4 linked regions of the Homo sapiens genome follow. The protein of the gene in region 3 purifies or fractionates together with the protein of the main gene of each other region. This does not show direct contact. Each region holds a gene or a part of one and is shown on either strand. Other genes may lie near its edges.

Region 1 (3,500 bases), on a different chromosome or scaffold from region 3:
TGGCAATTAAAATTAAACCAGTTTCGTTTCATAACAACACTAATCAATTTAACATCATTATAAAACGTTTGGAGAAGGTGGAAAAAAAAAGCCAACAGAGAAAAGTAACTCTTAAATAATATGCTCAGTTACAATATTCTTTGTACACATTCAATATATTAATGTTATTTTTTTTCTGAGTTTGCCTTCCCAGCTCTTTCTGCTACTATGACCACTCCCTGGTGCATGGCTTGGTGTGGAATTGCTGTAAACTTTATTACCTGTCAAAAGGGCAAAGGGGTCAGGATTGCTTGTGGGACTCAGTAAAGTTCAAAGACATTCAATGAGGTAGAGCTTTTGTGTGCTTTAATAACCCAAGGCAGCTTACTTCTGAAGCAGCTTTTCATGTACAGTTAAAACACGGGATTCAGGTAGTGGTATAAATACATGGTTCTTATTTCTCAGACCTTCTCTTGTTAATATCCATCTTCTGGTGTTCGACTTTTTTTTTTTTTAATAACAGTCTTTTTGTTTTGTTTTTAAATTATGAGCTTAAAATGGCGATACTTCTATGGGATCCTGGCTTGTGGATCTAAAAATCCAAGAAACATCTCTCTAGGATTTGTTTTTGCATTATAATATGCCAGTAAGATAACAAGAGTATTTGCTAGGGGTGATGTGAGTCTTTACTTTCTTTATGAAATACTCTCTCATCTCTTAGGGAGCACTATGGAAAACTATGTTAGCATCGCATTGAGGCAACACACATTTACTCCTGTAACTTTTTTTCTTCCAACACCCATTATGTGGTCACCAGACAAAACCCAAGCAGAAAGTTTCCACACCTTAACTGTTCCCTCTTTGAGCTAGATGTTTTAAAAACTCAGTCACAGAGGTGTGTAGATCTAGTCTGAGAGAAATTTCACTTTGAATGTTTAAAAAATTATACTAGCCTGCTATGTTCTGTCTCTTTCTCTGGTATGTTCTCCTCTTAGTCTCTCTTGGGCTATTTCTTTTGCTCTCAGAGACTGTTATTAAAAAACCACATTCTGTACTTTTGTAGTAAGTCAAGGAACACCTTATAATCCTGATGGACAGCCCATGGGAGGTTTCGTAATGGACGGTCAGCAACATATGGGAATTAGAGCACCAGGTAAGACTTTGTTTTTGTGGTAGTTCCTCATTTTTGACTCCAAGAGTGTCATCCCCTCATCAACACAGGTAAATCCGCCTCATCCTTTTCTGTTATCTCAAGCTGGCTGCCTTGCCTTGTCTGCTATCTGTGCATCTAAGATATTGCAGAGGGGAAGCCAGGATCTTTATGCACTGAAGATCTCACTATTTCTCAACCCTCTAGATCCTGTTTTTTTTTTAAGGGTCTTTTGGCACTATCTGTTGACTTTGCTCATTTTCTGGCCTCTTCTTGGATTTTTATCTCCCTTCTAGGACCTATGAGTGGAATGGGCATGAATATGGGCATGGAGGGGCAGTGGCACTACATGTAACCTTCATCTAGTTAACCAATCGCAAAGCAAGGGGGAAGTAAGTACAAATGGGGTCTTTGTTTTCACTTTGTCCTAGGAATATTTTTCCTCTTGCATTTTCTTATGTTCTCCTTGCCCATAGCTTCATGCTTGTTCATTCCTTTCCATTAAACTCCTGGTTTCTTGCTTCCATCATTTTCTTTTTGGTTGTGATCAAGCTTTTAAGCTTATAAATACTGTGTATGATGTACATTTATCCTGTGTGTTGCTATTGTACAGTACTGACCACATGACAAAACAAGAAGCAGTCAGGAGGTGGGGGAGTGGGTTGTCATAGCAACAGACTGATTTGCAAAATGTAAGCAGTCTGCAGCAGTGCAAGGAGAGGGAAGAGCATGTCCCCAAAGTGTCATAAATCTGTCTAACCGCAGTTGATGCATGAGTTACATTTCTACACTAACCTGCAAGACACCGAAAAGCTAAACAGAGACTTCTTTTAGGTAAAATAAACACAAGCTTTACTTAGGGTAAGTAAAGGCATATTTTGAGCTCCAGTCAACTAAACTTTGATTTTTTTTCTTAGTTTATTCCTTTGTCTGTCCATCATAATGGGATTACGTGTGGCAATGGGAAAAGGGAGAATACAAAATAGAGGTGTGCACAGCAGGCTGCGGGGCTTAGCCCAGGCTAATTGACTATATCCAAATTAAGTATGCCATCACTTGCAGTGTGACAAATGGATTTGACTTATTCAGTATACAAAAATAGAGATCATTAATGCAATCATCAGTGGCAGGCCTAGTGAAGTGGGCCTAGGAAAACTGTCCCAGATTCTCACTCTTGCATTTTCTCTCCTATAAAGACACTCCAGCAATTCGAGTTCAAACAAGTAAAACTGTTTTGAACACCAAGGCTCTTGTTCACTTCCTAAATTACCCCTAATAGCACTGTTCTTGCTTTGTTTTTGAAATTAAAAGCAGTTATTTCAGAGTCTTGCTTGTGTCTCTGATTATATTTATGCACTATTTAAAATCACTGCTGAGGCCAGGGGTAATTCGTACTGGTCATCTTCTCTGGGTGTGAGTCAAATATAAGTTTAACAATTAGCTCTGAAAACATTCCATTGAGCTGGGGAATGCAACAGTCTTATTACCTCATCATGGAATTCTCTAGCTTAGTTAATTTAAATATTGTTTCTTAGTTTCTGGGTCAATTAAATTTAAATGATGTATTTTATGCTTCGTGACCAATTAAATTACTAGGTTATTACAAAAAAAATTATCATCTTTTTTGATTAAAGAGCTGTGGGTACAGTATATTTTATAAGCAATTTTCATTAGTTCAAAAATGTTCCTTTAGGCTAGATTAAGCAGCCATTCATTGTTAGAGCCTGGAGACCTTATTCGAAGGTGTTCATCGTATTCACAGTGCACTATTACTTAGAACTAAAGCCAATTGAACCTACTTAGCAATAGCGTTATGCCTTTCACCCTTGATGATTATGGAGCTTATAGCTCTCAGAAACAATACACCTGTCAGTTTCCATCAACTATAGCAATCCATGCAGAAGACAAGAGGCCCCCTCAAAGCAGGAGGGGTATTGTTTTAGGTCCAATTTTTCTTATTGTTCTCAAAATCATTATAAGGTGGACAGTGTTTTGTGAAGATTTTCTTTTCCCCAGCTCTAAGAAACCATGTGGAAAGAATTCATTGATAACTGTTTTGATTTTTTTCTTTTTTTAAGTACAGGTTTTGCTAAGTAATCACCCTTAGTGAGCCTGTGTAGTTCAGCTGCCTGTGAGATGTTTGGTGACCAGCTCAGTGTATTCTTGTATTCTTGATAGAGAATATTTCAGGAGACAAAAGTGCTTCTTCAGACCAGACCTCAAATAACAATTTTATTCTTTTTAATAAATAAGACCTCAGTAGGCGGACCTGATAACAGTGACAATGAAAGGAAAATAGTGGCAAAATGTGAGTTTCCAGCATGATGTTTCTCATTTTATTTTCTTCTGTATGAATCAAAAGAATGCTTTA
Region 2 (3,500 bases), on a different chromosome or scaffold from region 3:
GGTGCTGTGAGGATACAGTGTACAAGAAGACAGACAAAGGTCCCTGTGCTCACTTGAGCAGCTCACAGTGTAGTGGGAAGTCAGGCATGCCCCCCCACCGCCCCAGGGATCAGACATAGTGGAATCATAAAGAGGGGTGAGTAAGTAAGGTCCCATGTTAGAGCTGCAGGATGGGATGAGGTCATCAAGAAATGCTTCTGGAGGGGCCAGTTGGGCTGAGACAGAAGCTGGGGCATGGAGGGCAGGGTGGCAGCCTTTGGAGAGAAAAGGTCCGTGTTCCTGGACAGTCTATGGGTTGTGTCATCCTATTAAGTGGCTCTTTACGTGTACTTATTTTCTCCCCAGGTAGATCAAAAGCTTCTGGAGGGCATGTTCTGTGTCTCATTCCTTCATGTCTTTCGCTACTCCTTCCACAAAATAGTTTCCAGTAAATGTTAGTTGACATGAATTGGTACTCAAATGGATGGTTAAAAGATGTGTATTGTGTAAGACACCATATCTTCCTTGTAATTTTTTTGGGGGTCAAGCAACAAACAGTTATTGAGGCTATGATATTAGAAATTAAAGACAAGCTTTAGCCCATTTGCTCTTTAAGGAACTCAGAATCTGAACATAGAACAGCCAGCAGAGCAGGTTGAACAAGCAAGTACACCATGTCGGGGTTCCCCGACTACACCATGTCGGGGTTCCCCGACTCCCCCATCTGTGGAGCTCATTGGGTCAGGCTTCCCAGGAAGCACATGCTGCACTGCTTGGGGTGGCCAGGCATGCAGATGGCAGATGGGGTGTGTGCAGAGGCTTGTGAGTGGGGCTGCAGAGAAACAAGCTAGTGGAGAGGAGATTGGCTGGCTTGTGTTTCTCTAGTGCCGTCATGTAGAAACGCTGGATTTGGGCAAGTGATTGACAGGGCATGAACCTCTGTCCTGACATCCTGCCTCTGTCCTCAGGTAATATTTGTTGAGAGTTCAAGGGCATAATATTTCAGAGCCCAGCAGTCTCACGCGGCTCTGCTGCGAAGTCCTTCTGGTGAACTGCTCTTCCATCCAGCCTCTCCTGTGGCCAGTAGGGGAGTGCAGACACAACGTCGTTAATAGCAACACATTTTTACAAAATTTACCTTTTCAAACCCCACCCCCTAGAAACCGTAGCTTCTTTAATGTCCCGCTGGCTGTGTGAAAAACAGGAATTTATGTAACAAGTCCTGCACAGCAAACCTTTTCCTGTTCGGAAAAAATTTTAATTGTTGGCAAAGTTAGGAAACAGCTCTGTTACTCAAAGAGCGACCTGAAATGTCCTCTTAGAAAAATATGTAATATGATGTTTTGATAAGTAGGAGACTGCTGTGGCTTTTTTTTTTTTAAAGTCTAAATTAGTATATGTCCCACCTGAGTTAGTGAACGCTTCTTGAATGTTTTAAAGATTTCCTTATTATGTCTCCTGCAGTCTTTTTAAAAATGACCCCCAGCTGGGCTTGCCAGTGATCTGACAGGCTTATCATGAATGTTAGAGAGCTTCACCCCCTCTCCCCAAGTCAATGCAACAACCAGGAAGCTTCTATCTGGGAAGATCTTTCTTCCCCCTTTATCATTAACTAAATGTGACAGGGACAGGAGTCAAGCTTCCTCTCCTCCAGAGATTTCATCGGAGCTTATCTGTGTGTCTATTGTGTTCAAAGAACAAAACTGTCATGATGGAATATTGTGCAAATGCCTGGACTTCCAGTGTATAGAAAATGTCAGGGTCAGACTGCAGGGCTGCATTCCAGTGCTACCCCAAGTGCGGGCCTGCTGATCTTAAGGAGGAATTAAGAACTCGGTTCGGCTGGGGTTGGTGGGTACAGCAGACAAGGCTGTGGCTCTGTGAGCATACATGTGTGTGTGTGGCGCCTTCCCATAGGAATTTGGGGATCTTAGGGGAATGCAATAGGATGGGAGGGAAATGTACTCCCTGGCCTCTTTTAGGGATTCTTGTACCTACTCTAAGCCCCTGGCCCTCCTCACAGCGTGTCTCGAGGTGAGGGTAGATCTTGGGTGTGGAGGAAGGTGGGGATTCTTGGGAACAGGAGACAGTCACTGCCATCACCACACACCTGCTCCGTTCCAGCCGGGAATCTGGGGCTCCGGTGGTGTCTTCCCCGCTCTCACACTTCACTGTATGCTCTGGCAGGAGGGCTTGTCACGTAGCTGCTGTGTTGAAATCTTTAGGCGGAATGCAGTACAGAGAGTCAGAGGGCGTTTTGAAATGTGGATTTCTCAGCCCTGACTGCTGGGCCTTACCCTGACTTTTGCATCTCCCTTTAGAAAGTGAGACCCCTCCATTTTCTCTCTTCTACCACCTTTTAATGAGAGAAGACTTCTCTCCCAGTTTGTGTTGGAGCCAGGCCTCATCCTGCTGTGCAGAGGCTCTGCTCAGGCGCAGTGGTTGGCACTCGGGCCCGGGCGTCCCATGTCAATGGCATGAGGATGTGGGCGCTGTGGCTGCACCCCTGGGTGACCACAAATCCAGCCAGAGCCTTTTTGTGGTTGAGAAGAGGGGCCGCAGAGATGCAGGGGGCATGGTCAGCTGAGCCTTGCATCCAGTTGGCAGAGGAGGCCAAGAAAGCTGGGAGACTGTGCACATTCCAGGGTCTTAGGGCACCCAGAATCCCACTCCTTGGGAGCAGACCTCTGAGGAAAGAGGCTGCTGAATGAACAAGGTGTAGTGGCTGTGTGCCCTGTACTGTGCTGGGGGCCAGAAGCTATAAGACAAGGCCCTTCCTTCTGGGGAGCTCACAGCGTTTCCCTCGTCTCCTTTTCCACGTGTCCCACGGACTCCCCTGAACACCATCTTACTCTGTGTTGTAGAGGAGGTGAATCAAACCATGGCTTTCTCATCTGCAGCCTGGCTCTGGTGTTTCTGCTGAAACTTGGAGAGACCACCTCTGGCCCCTTTCACCATATATTTGCAGTTGTGGGTTTGTATCTGTACTACTTCTAAGCTCCTATACATACCACACTGAATAGGAATAGAGAAGCAGGACTTTGGGGCGCAGGATACCACTATTCTAAGTTGGGGTCTAATATTCCCTTCATGGTGACTGCTTACATGCCAGGCACCGCTGAGCATTTTTATGTATCTCATTTAGTACATGTAACAACCCTGATAAGGCTCTGTAATTTAGCCCTGCTTTACAGGTGAGGAAACTTAAGACACATTAGGGGCTAGGCAGCTTCCCAAGGTCACCTAGGTAAGTAAGTAGCAGAGCCACCCAGGAAGTACTCAAAAGAAAGATTGTTGGTTTTTCTTCCCTAGTTGGCCTAGGGATGATAAACATGGCATGATTAGTTATGAAGCTGCGGTAGCTTGAGAGTTAGAGCTCTTTGCGTTCTCTGTCATTTCTTCCCATCCCAGGTTGTCTGTTTGGACAGTGTAGCCCCTGGCTACGTGGAGGTGTGTCATGGAGTTAGTTGGTGCATCCTGCTCATACTACTGGTCATTGGTAGAACTGGAGGGTAGGGGCA
Region 3 (5,086 bases):
TCTTTCCTCCCTCCCTCCTTTCTTTTTCTTTCTTTCTTTCTTTCTTTCTTTCTTTCTTTCTTTCTTTCTTTCTTTCCTTCCTTCTTTCTTTCTTTCTTTCTCTTTCTTTCTTTCTTTCTTTCTTTCTTTCTTTTCTTTCTTTCTTCTTTCTTTCCTTCCTTCCTTCCTTTCTTTCTTTCCTTTCTTTCTTTCTCTTTCTTTCTTTCTTTCTTTCTTTCTTTCTTTCTTTCTTTCTTTTCTTTCTTTCTTCTTTCTTTCCTTTCTTTCCTTCCTTCCTTCCTTTCTTTCTTTCTTTCTTTCTTTCTTTCTTTCTTTCTTTCTTTCTTTCTTTTCTCTTTTTTCTTCCTCTTTCTTTCTTTTCTCTCCCCTCCTTTCTTCTTCTTCTCTCTCTCCCTCTTCCCTCCTCCTTCCCTTTCCTCCCTTTCTTTCTTCATTATGGAAATGATAAAGTATTTAGCATTTGAGCAAAATTAATGTGGTATGCAGCAATTTAGTGGCATTTCAGGCAAATCTTTTAAGTTTCTTCAATCCTGGGAAAAATTAGATGTGAAGACATAACTTACTTTTTGCTTCCTCATCTCCTTTATCCCTGCTGTACTGAAAGTATAGCTTATTGAACTCCACCTTTTAATGTAGATGATTTTCTAGTTATCATATCCATTCTTCTTCATTTCACCTAAGGAGGAATACTCAGCCCTAACGTTTACTGAGCACTTGGTATGTTCCAACATCCTTGCTAGGTGCTTTGCAGGGACTGCTTCATTTAATCTACAATGAAGTTTTGAGGTGGGCACTCCACTCTCGTCATCCCCATTTACCAGGTGGGGACTCTGAGGCTCAGTCATATGACCGTGTTAACTCATGGTGGACCCTGATTAGAGCCAATGGAATGTGAACCCAGAGCTTGTGATTGGAACTGCATGTCATAGGAATCTAAGTAACTCTAAGACATTTACACAAATTTAGGATAGATTTTTCTGCTTAGACTGATTTGCTTATCTAGGAGAACACTGGATTAAGCCTGTTTTCTGAAGTGGTATCTGTGGATTACTTATTCATTGTTATGAAGATACTGACTTTGAAGAAAGACTACCCAGGCCTAGTTTCCTGGGTAAGTAAGTCAGTCCCTTCCCTGACAAATATCAGTTTTATTTCTACTCCATGCCCAGCCTTGTGCTGGAGACCATACCAAACACAGAAGAAACAATATGTAAACTCCATTTTTAAAATTAACACAATAATCTTTACTAGAAAAGAGGATAAAAATGAAAGACAATATAATTATTAAGTAGTGTAGTATAACCTATACATGCTTTGGGAGTTCAGGTAGAAAAAAATGGTATCTAGAGCAGTGAGGGAAGGATGTTTCTGATCTGCCTTTTTTTCAAAAGAGGATAGATTTCATATTCCAGTAATCAAGTGTTGGAGCTGCCTTCAGAACTTAGAGGGAACAGGCTGGGTAGTACTTACTAGCATGAGAGTAAGCAACAAACATTTAGTGCAAATGTCAGGAAAATATTCTCAATGGGGAGGAAAAAATATATAAATTTTCAAGAGATGTGGAAAGGTAGAAAACTCCAGAATTTTGGTCTTTTTAGAGATTTAAAAGAGATTTAGTCTTTTTAGAGACTTAAAAAAAACTTTTCACTTTGAAATAATTCCAGATGCATAAAAGTTTGCAAAACAATGTACAAAAAGTTTCCAAAACATGTGAGTCTTTTACAATTGTAAAAAAAAACATATAATGCAAATAACTCTTTTAAATTATCTCTTGGCACCTCTTGTAATCCTTAATCCAAATGACTTCTGTTGATGGGAGAAAGCACCATTGCCAGTTTCTTGATAAAAGGGACCAAATAACTAGAACCATGTCTTCTTAGGAAAAGCAAGAAGTCTTGGCAGATGTGCATCTGGCATATGGCTCCTGAGACACTGACAGGTCCTGAGCTACTCAATTCTCCCCAGCCGGGTTTGTATTGCACCTGAGGTTACCAGCATCTGCTCAGCCTTGGCACAGAAGTCTTGCCTGTTCCTCCTTGGGCTCTGCCTCCTAAACACCTACCTTGTTATAATCACTCATGAGTTCAACCAAGTTAGTCCAGCGCTGCCTTGCTACTCACAGTGAAGTCCTCTGACCTGCGGCATCAGCACCACGTGGGAGCTTGTTAGAAATGTGGAATGTCTGGCCAGACCTCAGACCTACTGCAGCAGACTGCATTGTAACAGGATCCCCGGGTGATTCATATGCACATTACAGTTTGGGAGGCACTGCTCTAAAGAAAAAGCAAAAACAAATGAAAAAGCAAAAATGAAAAAAATGAACAAACAAGAAATCTTGCACTATTTTCCGCAGTGCTTTACTACTTCCTTATATTTGTATCTAGTTGCTAAAGCGTAAGTCCACAAAAGATCGACATTATATCAAAAAGATGTTGGTTTAACTCAGGAAGCTGCAATATTTCACCATTTGTGCTATGCAATCTTTCAATGAGTTAGTTCTCCACTGTAAGAAAAATGCTTACTTCTTGGTTTTATGCATAACAATGGTACAAACAGACTACCATTAAACAGAAATTGTGGCTCTTTTCTCCTGCAAAATTCTTGACTAATGCTACTCAACCTATGATTATGAAAGGGAATCCTGTTTTCATGACTTGAATACAAGTCTTTAGAAAAAGAGATGAGAGATTTAGCTATCCATGTTCTAGCTCTAACACTTAAATAACCTCTGCCATGTTGGGCAGTAGAAAAAAGTAATTAATATAAAACAGTAGTGTTACTAATTAGTGACATTAGTAAGCATTTACTAATGCTTACTAATTGCCAGGCACTACTGATAAAATAGCAATAATAACAATTATTATTTATTGACCATTTTTACTATTTATACAGCATGCTGCTAAGTATTTGTGTTTTGTATGATCCTCCTCTATAATCCTGAAAGTGTTGATATTATTACCTGCATTTTATAGTTGAGGAAACTGATTGTGAGGTTAAGAAATTTGCTCATGGCCATACACGCAGCAAGCAGTTCTACGTTCACCCATAGTATGTAACTCCAGGGTTCTTGATCACTGCTAAACACGTAACCTCTTAGGACTCAGTTCATTGAAATAAATGAGAAGATTGATGAATTTTTTCCAACTCCAAAATTCACTGGAATTGCACAATCCCTCTTTATATAAGAATGCTAGCAAGCTGTTTAGCATTATACTGAGAAATTGGAACCTTACATTTCGGGTAATAAAACAAATGAAACTCCACCATGAAAATCACAATCAGACATAGTCCAAGAAGTTGCTTGCTGGATTTGAGAGATCTAAGGCAGCTGGTATCTTTTAGTTCAATTTTAAAGGGGCATTATTGCAACTATCCAGTCCCCTCTCATTGTTCTTGTAATATCTCTTTCTATTTATGGTGCCTCTCAGTTTTGTTGAGAATTCCTTTAGAGCCAGAGCCAAGTCTAAACTCTAGATTATGTCTGACATGCTTCACAGGCTAAGAGTCTGTAATGTAATTCTTTAAAATGCTAGTCTCTTCAGAGGTTTCATTGGCAGCATTCATTGGATTAGAGTTGACGTTTTTAATCTCGTGGCCCTTCTTTGCATTTGACTTGGAAAACAATCTCTTATTCCATGGCCTCTATTACGACCATTCTTGGAAAGCAAAGAGTACTCTACATTATTCCTCCAGCTTATTCTTTTTTTGTTTTGAGGTTCGAAGTAAAACACAATCCTTATTTATTTATTCAGTTATTTATGAGTACTTACCATGCTTCTGGCTCAGGAGTACATCCTAAGGCCAAGTGTGATCATTTGTTGAATTTCATGGTAAAATACAGGATTTGAGGCATAGCATTTGTACACAGGCTATGGCCACTTTTATGGTAAGGCAGTGTATTGAATATTACCTTTGATCTTCAGGAAGATGTTCTGACAGAAGTATGATTGACTAGAAAGTGTAGATTGTTAGTATTTCAAAGGTTTCAGAGACTAGAATTGGCATTTTCTTAGTTAGATTCCTAGACCTAAGAGTCGGCAGGTTTTAATGTATTTCCTTGATGCCTAGGAGAAGCAAGACCTTTCTGTCCATTGTTGACAATGCCATTTCAGTACTGTATGGTGAGGGATTTGTTTCCACTGAGAAGGAAATGCATAAAATAATCTATGAAGCATTCCTTATTTCTTAACTGCTATGGTATACCAGAGTAAAACATCTTCTAGTCTTTCTCTTTTTCAGGAGATAGTAGCGAGTTACTCCTCAAGGAAGGGTAAAACAATATACTCTTTAAAATTATAATGACATGAGTTCATTTTAATATTCTAAGAAGGATTCGTTGAGCTATGTCAATTCATACAGGACTTGAAAGTGTTATGCTTAATTAGGAGATGGGTTTATTTTTAGAGAAATAGGAGATGGATATGACTCATTTCCATTTAAGCAAGGGTTGGCGGAATAATTATAGTGAAGTTGTGAAGAAACAAAGACTGAGATGTTAATTGTACTGTGAGTTGCTGCTCTGTAACCTTAGTGAAAGAATAAATGCACTTAGCTTAAGACACAGAAGACAGTAGCCCATAATTTGGAACACAGCCTTCATTTGTCAGTGCTGGCTACTTAAAATAAGAAGGAATATTCACTACTACTGTAATGTTGGATTACTTAGTCAAGCAAATGAGGTTCTTGTAGATTTAGTAGTGAGACAGAAAAACCATCTTCAGTTCTTCTAATCCTTTTTCTTTTCTATGCGTTGTAACCACAAAGTTTCCATGGGGAGTAAGGAATGTTCAGCTTTCCTAGATATGATGGATCTTAAACCTGAGTTCTTAGAGAATTGGATTTGGGAGCTTTTGTTACAGTGACAGGTCAGGGAAGACATCTACTCAAATGATTTGGGAAATACACGTGGGCTACTCATGAGAATCAGAAAGAACACACTGAAGGAGTATAGATGAACTCATCAATCTGGTACATCCTATAGTTTAGAGAAAAGTGCCATCTTGCTTGTAGTTAACTCTTGAGAAGCCTAACCTCAGGGTCACACAAGGACACACTTCATCACAGGGATTTTTTTTTTTTTTTTTTT
Region 4 (3,114 bases), on a different chromosome or scaffold from region 3:
GGAGGAGTAATAAGATTTAAGTGGAGATGCTACAAGATGAGGAATAGTGGTGATGGTCATGATAATACTTCACTTTAGAAGTAGAGCACTTTACTGTTTTCAAAAAAATTTTTTAATGTGTATTAGTTCATTTGATCCTAACAACAACACTGTAAGGTAGATATGTTGAAAGCATTATTATAATTATTTCCATTTTGCAAATGAAGAAATTGGAAGATTTATTGGTCGGTGCTGGGGTCTGATCTGGAACTCAAGTATTTTCTGATTTCTAGCTGCTGTGTCTCCTCCTGATGAGACTTTAGCACAGACACTTCCTAGAGGTTCACCTTGGAACACCCACTTCATATGATATATGTGGTCATTTCTCTCATTGTCTGATCCTTGGGATAAAGGTTCTGATATTTTCCCCAAGTCCCTAGTGGCTCACCTGCCCTGTCTACCCCAACCAAGTTTCAAGAATAACCCATTACTGACCCTCTCGTTTCCCTTTCCCCTGCCAGATCTGCCAGTTCCTGAAAGGAGCCAAGATCACGCGGCTCCAGGATCAGCAGGTTCCCTACGCAGTCAAGGGGAACCAGTGGGTGGGCTATGATGATGTGAAGAGTATGGAGACCAAGGTAGGTGGGCCACAGGCAGATACTCCTTTAGGTGGGGAATGGTGATATGTAGTAAAATGCCTGAATACTCTATGTTCAAAGAGAGAAGCTTCTGAGGCCCCAGACTCTAGGATGGGATCCAGCAGCCTTTATAGCTCAAGTCTAGTAGTGACTCTATGTCACACCCGCGAGCAGCTGTGGTACAGGTAGAAGAGTTGGAAAGGACGCAAAAAAGAATTGAGAACAAGTAAGTTTATTCTGATAAGTGAGGAGTGGAGAGAAGAGTAAGGCAAGGAGAAGGGAGAGGGAATAAAGGAGACGTTGGTGCCTGTATAGATAATCTACTTTGTTAATTATCTCGGGACAAACTGTTCAGTCCTTCTCATGGATTACCTAGCTAGGAGGCTCCAGATTCCTGAGCCTACCAGTTCTTAGACCTTGGTAAGACATTTGTGTTCCTTTCATGGTTAGAACAAAAAGGAGGCTTGAGTGTAATTGACAATCCTGGCCACTTGTCTTGTTAAGGGCTTCCTAGTTTCTTCCCTTATTATGGAGAGTTTTCTCAGCCTCCAAGAATGCCGGACCTTGAGTGTGGTGACTCAAGTCAGAATGAGATGTAGCTAATGCTGATTTGGTGGCTCTCTCTCCCTGAGCAATCTTACCCCTCAGGAAGTCTCTAACTCCAGAAAACCAGTTAGTCTACTGCTGTATTTTAAGCTTAGTCCCTCATCTGAACCTGATATGGTCCTGGGCATTTAGGGGCCACCCTTCGAATCTCTGTGTATCCTTCTGTGTCTCCCATAGGTTCAGTTCTTAAAGAATTTAAACCTGGGAGGAGCCATGATCTGGTCTATTGACATGGATGACTTCACTGGCAAATCCTGCAACCAGGGCCCTTACCCTCTTGTCCAAGCAGTCAAGAGAAGCCTTGGCTCCCTGTGAAGGTAACAGTCCAGGCTGGAGCTGGGAGTGGGCAGACAGCTGGGCAGAACAGGGCACAGGAGACTGGGGGAGATCATCTTCACATATTTGGACTAATCCTTTCTCATGCTCCTTTGGCTCTTCTGCCATGTTTTCTTAGCAATTAGGCTGGTTCTGCCCTTTTCATAGGCTTCCCATAGACTTTTAAAGTAATAATAATAATATTGATAAATTTTGGCTACCATTTATTGAGCATAGTATGAGCTAAAGACTTTCATTACATATATATTAGGGATAAATATTGACACCACCACAATTCTTGGTTACAAAATCATCAGCCTGTCTTAATTTTCTAAATCACAATAAATCTGACTCTATGTCCTCAATTCACTGGACTGATGATAATTTCCATCTCACTCATTACCTGAGGCTCTTTTCCCCCACCCACAGTTGATCTTACTTAGTCTAGACATTTGGGAGCTCCCATGGTCATTATTGCTACGCCTTTACCCAAGCCTCCCTATTACCTTGAAGGTCGGTGGCTTTGCTGCTGCTCCATCCCTGGGCCCCCAGTTCCCTAGGTGCGTTGTATATCCTCCTGTGCAGATGAAGGCTGTTGCTGACCAAACAGTTATGCTGTGATACATTGGTTCTAGGGCAGAGGGTGGAGAAGCAGGGCGCTGGGGCTCACTGCAGACAGACAACTAAAAGACTGGCTCTGCTATCCTGGCAAAGGGCCTAGAACCATTTGAAAACTCCTGATTAGATAATTGGGTAGCAGCCTTCCAACTCTGAGCATCCATTGTTTAGTAACTTGACTTAGGCCTCAGTTTACTGAGTTGGGCTTTGAAATATTTTTCCTTTTGTTTCCAGGATTAACTTACAGAGAAGCAGGCAAGATGACCTTGCTGCCTGGGGCCTGCTCTCTCCCAGGAATTCTCATGTGGGATTCCCCTTGCCAGGCTGGCCTTTGGATCTCTCTTCCAAGCCTTTCCTGACTTCCTCTTAGATCATAGATTGGACCTGGTTTTGTTTTCCTGCAGCTGTTGACTTGTTGCCCTGAAGTACAATAAAAAAAATTCATTTTGCTCCAGTAAGTATGGCCTCATTTATTCAGTCCTTGACCCTGTGATATCAGGTTGTTCTGTCCCTGCTATTTGTGGGATCCAGAGCTAGGGTGAAAACGAAGTTTTGCATATCATGTTTAAATATTAAAAACAGCTAACATGCTGTTAAAATATGACTTATGCTCCAACATTAACACATACAACTTTGCAACCACCTAGAAGGTCAGAACCTGAAAATTTAAAATTCTCAGACTCCTTAGAATACCACACCAGAATTCCCATCTTTGCCTCTGTCTCTCACAGTAGGAGCCTCATGGGCATACTTGTGGACATTGTAGGCTTTGTATCCAAGCTTCATCTGCACTCTACCCTCTACCCTCAACCTCCAACACACAAACCCACCCACACACACATACACCTGCCTCTGGGCTATGCATGTGCACACCGGCGTTGTGGTCCACTCTCAGTAAAGATGGGCCCAGGGAAAAGTCATGTGCAGGCTCTGAGAGAGCGCACAGGCTCTTCTGGCT

The links. Proteins that work in one complex are often made in the same cells at the same time.
Region 1: the proteins of ETS1 (region 3) and MEIS1 purify together in Homo sapiens (affinity purification with western blotting; one study listed by BioGRID and IntAct). This does not show direct contact.
Region 2: the proteins of ETS1 (region 3) and FOXO1 fractionate together in Homo sapiens (co-fractionation; one study listed by IntAct). This does not show direct contact.
Region 4: the proteins of ETS1 (region 3) and CHI3L2 purify together in Homo sapiens (affinity purification with mass spectrometry; one large-scale study listed by BioGRID and IntAct). This does not show direct contact.

What each region holds. Positions count from the first base shown.
Region 1 is NC_000002.12:66,567,625-66,571,124, forward strand, and holds part of MEIS1 (homeobox protein Meis1), read left to right. Parts: intron 1-1,042; coding exon 1,043-1,132; intron 1,133-1,425; coding exon 1,426-1,484; 3' UTR 1,485-1,521; intron 1,522-3,500. UniProt on the Homo sapiens protein: Acts as a transcriptional regulator of PAX6. Acts as a transcriptional activator of PF4 in complex with PBX1 or PBX2. Required for hematopoiesis, megakaryocyte lineage development and vascular patterning.
Region 2 is NC_000013.11:40,562,142-40,565,641, reverse strand, and holds part of FOXO1 (forkhead box protein O1), read left to right. Parts: exon of another isoform or gene 1-2,953; intron 2,954-3,500. UniProt on the Homo sapiens protein: Transcription factor that is the main target of insulin signaling and regulates metabolic homeostasis in response to oxidative stress.
Region 3 is NC_000011.10:128,580,184-128,585,269, reverse strand, and holds part of ETS1 (protein C-ets-1), read left to right. Parts: intron 1-341; exon of another isoform or gene 342-2,273; intron 2,274-5,086. UniProt on the Homo sapiens protein: Transcription factor. Directly controls the expression of cytokine and chemokine genes in a wide variety of different cellular contexts. May control the differentiation, survival and proliferation of lymphoid cells.
Region 4 is NC_000001.11:111,240,827-111,243,940, forward strand, and holds the end of CHI3L2 (chitinase-3-like protein 2 isoform a precursor), read left to right. Parts: intron 1-500; coding exon 501-617; intron 618-1,400; coding exon 1,401-1,538; 3' UTR 1,539-1,540; intron 1,541-2,390; 3' UTR 2,391-2,614; downstream 2,615-3,114. UniProt on the Homo sapiens protein: Lectin that binds chitooligosaccharides and other glycans with high affinity, but not heparin. Has no chitinase activity.